Homo sapiens: one gene and its partner. The protein of the gene in region 1 purifies or fractionates together with the protein of each later gene. This does not show direct contact. Each region holds a gene or a part of one and is shown on either strand. Other genes may lie near its edges.

Region 1 (3,500 bases):
AGCTGGAGCTTCATCTTTCAGTGAAAAAAATTTAGGGGGTTTTATGTTATAAACTTTGTTATAAATTTTATATTGGTCTTCAGTTTCAGAAACACTGTTGCCTCAAAGGGAAGGAACTAATGTTTAATAAGCTCAGTGAAATAAGTAGAGATTTACTCAGTTTTATAGATTGGGAAACTGTCTCGGAGAAGATAACACAGCCAGTAAGCCACAAAGCCAGGAGTAAGATTCTTACCCATTTTGCAGCACATAAATCTATAAGACTTAAGAAGTTAAGAAATAAAGTTAGTCCTATTCTGGTACAGTTCAACATGAAAGTTCTTCAGTGGAGCAACAAACCCTGACCAAGGTCTTGAAGGGGGTTTTTAGCCTAGAGTCAGGTAACTTCCTCTTTCCAGCTCCATCTCAGGTACCTCTCCCTCATCGTAGCTTGTCTTTATGAATGTCAGCTTTTTGTTTGTTGTAGACCAAACTAATGCATTCATTTAATTCTAACATCTAATCTAAGGTATCTTGGGTTATCTCCATTTACACTTATAAACTGAGGCTTTGAGAAGATTAGGTGACTAGTCCAAGGCTGGTATTCTGGATCCTTTGGGCACTGGAGACACTAACACAGCCTGCCTTCACATGCCCACAAGTACGGAACCTGCCGTATTTCACTGCCTCTTAAGTGTACTCTCAGTCTGTATCCTACTAGCTCAGTCGTATATCCTACACTATTTCTACTATGCCAAACTTCATTACCCTTAACAGACCTTTGCAGTGATTTCCCTGCCACTAGGTGCCCTGTAGGGGTGATATTTGTAGCTCTGGAGATTGCTTTATTCTGACCCTCTAGCAGAGACTACAACCTCATGAGTCTTGGCAGACACTACTTGTCTTTTCACCATTACTACTACTGTGCTAACTGGGAATCTGGCCACCCTTCCTTACCCCAAGGGGTGGGTCTTGATATAAACTCTAAACCAATCATTGTAACTCTAGCTCCCTAGACAGTGATTGATTTAGGCATGGGCATATGATGCAGTTCTTGCTAATTAGATGGGAAGGGAAGCCTGGGGAACTTGTGGAGAAGCCTTCCTTATTTAAAAGAGACTTGCCAGCTTTTATTTTATTATTTTTTGCCAGTTTGTATTTTAACCCAGGTTGCACCAAAATGTGTGAACCACAAACAAAGACAGAGATGGGAAAGCTATAATAATAATAATACCCAACACTTGTATAGAACTTGCTATGTGCTAGGTACTCTTCTAAGTAGAGGCATACCTCAGAGCTAAGGCAAGTTTGGTTCCAGACCACTGCAATAAAGCAAATATAATAAAGCAAGTCACATGAATTTTTCTGTTTTCCAATGCATATAAAAGTTATCTTTATACTATACTGTAGTCTCTTAAGTGTGCAATAATATGTAGAGTAAAAGTACCTCTTTTATTTATTTATTTATTTATTTGAGACAGGCTGGCCCTGTCTGTCACCCAGGCTGGAGTGCAATGGCGTGATCTCGGCTCACTGCAACCTCCGCTTCCTGGGTTCAAACCATTCTCCTGCCTCAGCCTCCTGAGTAGCTGGGATTACAGGTGCCCACCACCACACCCAGCTAATTTTTGTATTTTTAGTAGAGACGGAGTTTTACCATGTTGGACAGGCTGGTCTTGAACTCCTGACCTCATGATCTGCCTGCCTCAGCCTCCCAAAGTGCTGGGATTATAGGCATGCATGAGCCACCATGCCCAGCCAAAAGTACATATCTTAATTAAGAAATCCTTATTGTGAAAAATTGCCATTTGGTGAGCTGTAATCTTTGCTGGTGGAGGGTCTTACCTTGATGTTGATGGCTGCTGAGACTGATCAGGGTGGTGATTGTCTGGGGTGGCAGTAACAACCTATGAAATTTGCCACATCAATTGATTCTTCCTTTCACCACAGATTTCTCTGTAATGTGATACTGTTTGATAACATTTCTCTCTGCCATAGACCTTTCAAAATTAGAGTCAGTACTCTCAAACCCTGCCACTGCTTTATCAACTAAGTTTATGTAATGTTCTAAATCTGCCGGTCTTGGTGGCTCACGCCTATGATGCCAGCACTTTGAGAGGATGAGGTGGGAGGACTGCTTGAGCTCAAGAGTTTCAGACCAGCCTGGGCAACATAGTGAGACCCCATCTCTAAAAAAACATTTAAAAAATTAGCTGGGTGTGGTGGCGCGTGACTGTAGTCCCAGCTACTCAGGAAACTGAAGTGGGAGAATCACTTGAACCTGGGAGGTTGAGGTTGCAGTGAGATGATTGTGCCATTGCACACCAGCCTGGGCGACAGAGCAAGATCTTGTCTCAAAAAAACCCCAAAAATCCTTTGTTGTCATTTCATGTATGTGTGTATGTATGTATGTATATATGTTTTTTTTATTTATTAAGACAGGGTCTCACTCTGTCACACAGGCTGGAATGCAGTGGTGCTATCAACAGCTCACTACAGCCTTGAATTCCCAGGCTCAAGCAATCCTCCTACTTCAGCCTCCCGAGTAGCTGGGACTACAGGCATGCACCACCATGCCCGGCTAATTTTTTAAATTGTTTTTAAAGAGTGTTGCCTAAGCCTGTCTTGAACTGGGCTCAAGTGATCTTCCTGCCTTAGCCTCCCAAAGTGTTGGGATTACAGGTGTGAGCCACCTTGCCCAGCCTATTGTCTTATCAACAGGATTAACGGCATTTTCACAAGGAGTAGATTCCATCTCAAGAAACCATTTGTTTGCCCACCCGTAAGAATAGCTGCTCATCCATTCAAGTTTGATCGTGAGATTGCAGCAATTCAATCATATTTTCAGTTGTCTAGTTATCACATTTTCACTTCTAGTTATCTTGCTGTTTCCACCCCATCTGCAGTAACTTGCTCCATTGAAGTCTTGAACCTCTTAAAGTCATCCGTGAGGGTTGGTATCAACTTCTTCCAAACTCTTATTTATGATATTTTGACTTCTTATGAATCGTGAATGTTTTTATAAGACCTGAAAGTTGAAATCACTCCTTAATTCATACAGAATGGATGGATTCTGTATAGCTACAGAATGGATGTTGTATTAACAGGTGGGAAAACAACATTAGGCCGGCGCAATGGCTCACACCTGTAACCCCAGCAATTTGGGAGGCCGAGGCGGGCAGACCACTTGAGGTCAGGAGTTCGAGACCAGCCTGGCCAATGTGGTGAAACCTTGTCTCTACTAGAAATACAAAAAATTAGCCTGGTGTGGTGGTGCACACCTATAATCCCAGCTACTGTGGAGGCTGAGGCAAGAGAATTGTTTGAACCTGGGAGGTGGAGGTTGCAGTGAGCTGAGATCACGCCACAGCACTCCAGCCTGGGCGACAAGAACGAAACTCTGTCTCAAAAAAAAAAATATATATATATATATATATATTCAGTAAATCAAGCTGTAAACAGATGTGCTGTCATCCAGGCTTTATTCCATTTATAAAGCATAAACACAGTGGATTCAGCAT
Region 2 (3,500 bases), on another chromosome or scaffold:
TCTTTTGTAGACAGCACTTAGTTGTATCATATTTTAAAAATCCACTCTGCCAATCTATGCCTTTTGATAGGAAAATTTGGCTGGGTGTGGTGGCTTACACCTGTATTCCCAGCACTTTGGGAGGCTGAGGTAGGCAGATCACCTGAGGTCAGGAGTTTGACACCAGCCTGGCCAACATGGTGAAACCCTGTCTCTACTAAAAAAAAAAAAAAAATACAAAAACCAGCTGGGTGTTGTGGCACATGCCTGTAATCCCAGGAAGAATTGCTTGAACCCAGGAGGCAGAGGTTGCAGTGAGCCGAGATTGGGCCACTGCACTCCAGCTTGGGTGACAGAGCAAGACTCTATCTCAAAAAAAAACAAAAAAAAAAAAACAAAGTTTAACCTATTTGCATTTGAAGTAATTGCTGATAAGGAATGTATTACTACTGCCATTTTGCTATTTGTTTCCTGTATGTCTTGTAGCTTTTTTGACCCTCATTTATTCTATTACTGCCTTCTTTTGTGTTTTGTTGATATTTTATAGTAACACATTTAGAGTCCCTTCTCAGTTTCTTTTGTGTTATATTCTATAAATATTTTCTTTGTGTACATGGGGAAACAGGACAAGCTGCCACAAGTATGTAGGGTGATGCACTTGTTCAGTCCCTGTGGGGGTCCTGTGCCCCATCCTCTCCATGCCCTTCCGTCATCACTCCACCGCTCAGCCTTAAACATCTGCCATTCTAAGAAACATTCTTAATGGAAAAGGTGGTAAAATGATATTTTAATGGTGATTCTGGAAAAAAAAAAGGCAAATGAAAAGCATTTCTAGCCCTCTGGGAGAACTCACTGGTTTATTGTTGGTAGAAGCTTCTTAAGGCCTTGCAGACACACTGTGTCCCATGGTGATCCCAGCACAGGCCACCCTGAGCCCTGTGTCCCTGTATCTGTGCCACTGTGAAGATCTGCAGAGCGCACATCTGGGCATTCTTGATCTCGAACTCCTGAGCTCAAGTGATCCACCCACCTCAGCCTCCCAAAATGTTGGTATTACGGGTGTGAGCCATCACAACTGGTCTGAGCCACCGTGCCTGGCCCTGGGCATTCTGAGCCACCTGTGCCACCTGTACCTTCCCCAGAACTGAGCTATTTCCTGATGGCCCTGCAGGTGGCCCATGAAAAGTAGATTCTTCGCCCCTCTGAGTTTGTTTTCTGTGATAAGCTCTGTGAAAGTGGGTTTCCACCGCAACCCCTCACTTCCATCTTCTGGAGAGGCAGGTTGGCAGGCCAGGGGCAGCTCTCAGCTGGGCAATGCGCACCACACAGGCTGGGATGGCTGTGATTCTGCAGGTTCACCCTCCTGGTGGGAACCCACCTTGGGGGTGATGCCTTCCTGTGGTCAGTGTCAGTACGAGGCTGTCGTCTCTGGTCCCCTTGGGCTGTGCTGGCTCATGACCCTGTGCTATCTGTTTTAGATCAGACCTATTGTGACCGCCTGGTGCAGGACACGCCTTTCCTGACAGGCCATGGGCGCTTGAGTGAGCAGCAGGTGGACAGGATCATCCTCCAGCTGAACCGTTACTACCCACAGATCCTTACCAACAAGGAGGCGGAAAAGGTGCTGAGGAGGTGAGGGGGGTACCCGAGACACTGCTCAGTTTCCCTTCCTTTCTGGGCTGGGAGAAGCTGGTGACCAGCCCTGGGTCATTCTCTCATGGGATGACACACTAGGTATGTCAGGATTCAGAGGTGACACATCTGGACCTGGCTACTAAGGCTGCCTGAGCTACAAACTGGCCCTTTGGGGTGAGCCCAACCAGGCTCGGAACATCAGCTCTCTGTGCCTCGGTTTCTTCATATGTCATTGGGTCTGCTGTCCCCTTCCCGAGTTGCTGGGAGGTTACAGGAGATAACATGTGACAATACATGAAGCACACAACAGTATAAGATACGGAGGGAGGCGAGAAAGAGGGCAGGAGGGAGGGGTGAGGAGGGAGGAGGCAGAGGGAGAGCCGAAGTGGGATGGGGAACAGATAATGGGCCCGGCCCACCCCAGTGCCACAGGGCTTTGCACTCTGCATCTTCCGAAGGTTCAAAGCGGGCAAACAATTGCTTCCTTTTCTCTAATTTCTATATTACTGTACGAGGCTGGAAAGCCCAGCATGTCACAGGTAGGCAGCTGAGCTTCTAGGAAGGCAGATGCTGACTCACCCCACAGCCGCGCCCCAGTCTGCCCCTCTCAGCAGTGCTGAGCGGGCTGGTCCCCTCAGAACCCCAGCCTCCCCCATGTGTGGAGTGGACACCGAGAGCCCCTGCCTGGCAGGTGTGGTGAGGACTGACTGAGCTGAGCCGGGTAAACGCCTGCCCGAGAGCCCTTGTCGCCAGATGGCCCTGCAGCCCTGTGGGCAGCCACGCTCATCACCCCATCTCACAGAGGTGGTCCGAAGGCTCAAGAGGCAGCCACTTGCCCAGGGCCACTCATTTCAGGAGTGTCAGGCCACATCTTGAGTTCATCCTATTATTTGGGAAAGTGCCCAGGGCCAGTGGCTGTCACTCTGTCACATGGCCCTGGCCTCTCAGAGCTGCAGAGCTGGGCACACCAGGGTGGCTCTGCTGGAGATGGCATTTAAGATGCAATTCCTGGGCTCTGTCTTGGGAGGTCTGTTCTGCTCCATCACCCCAGTGCCAGGTGGCCCTGAGGGGACATTGGATGAGAGAGTTAGCCACACCCTGCCGACCCTACCCACATCTGTGGCTCTGGCGCCCCCACTGAGCCACCTGTTCCTTGACAGGTGCCACGTGCAGGGCTATCCTGAGGGTTGGGGCATCTCCTGGAACAATGAGGTTGGCCCACAACAGAACAGGAGTCAACACGGGCCCTGCTACTGGCTCAGGTGCTTCTTCCGTTTTGAAGGTGGTACAGTAATTTTAAAAGTTAGGAGCTCAAATCCAAATCTCTTATTATTGCAATTGAAGTCTAATGCATGTTCACTTTTAAAAAGTTTAGAAAGTTTAAGACGTTTATACAAGAAAAAGCACATATTCCTTCCTCACAGACACCACAGCTCCTGCCACCCATCTGCCTGCCATTTTCACACTGCCATGGTTTAACTCCAGTTCCCTGTGGCCATGTAGAATGATATGCTGCCACCAGGTGGCAGCACCAGGCCACAGACTCCAGGTCCTGGAGGTCAAGGCCCAGTGGCCTGTCCACTGACCTTGAGAACCACACATTTCTCTGTCATACACATCAAAAGAGCCAATACTTCTGTCTTTTTTTTTTTTTCTTTGAGATGGAGTCTCTGTCGCCCAGGCTGGAGTGCAGTGGCATGATCTCGGCTCAGTGCAACCTCTGCCTCCCAGTTTCAAGCAATCCTCTGGCCTCAGCCTCCCAAGAAGCTGGGATTAAACATGCACCATCATGCCCAGTCAATTTTTTGTACTTTTAGTAGAGATGGGGTTTCACCGTGTTGGCCAGGCTGGTGTCAAACTCCTGACCTGGAACTCCTGATCCGCCT

The links. The genes of interacting proteins can lie anywhere in the genome.
Region 2: the proteins of KPNA6 (region 1) and CARD19 purify together in Homo sapiens (affinity purification with western blotting; one study listed by BioGRID). This does not show direct contact.

The regions. Positions count from the first base shown.
Region 1 is NC_000001.11:32,111,056-32,114,555, forward strand, and holds part of KPNA6 (importin subunit alpha-7), read left to right. Parts: intron 1-3,500. UniProt on the Homo sapiens protein: Functions in nuclear protein import as an adapter protein for nuclear receptor KPNB1. Binds specifically and directly to substrates containing either a simple or bipartite NLS motif.
Region 2 is NC_000009.12:93,106,217-93,109,716, forward strand, and holds part of CARD19 (caspase recruitment domain-containing protein 19), read left to right. Parts: intron 1-1,457; coding exon 1,458-1,600; coding exon of another isoform or gene 1,601-1,611; intron 1,612-2,774; exon of another isoform or gene 2,775-2,876; intron 2,877-3,500. UniProt on the Homo sapiens protein: Plays a role in inhibiting the effects of BCL10-induced activation of NF-kappa-B. May inhibit the phosphorylation of BCL10 in a CARD-dependent manner.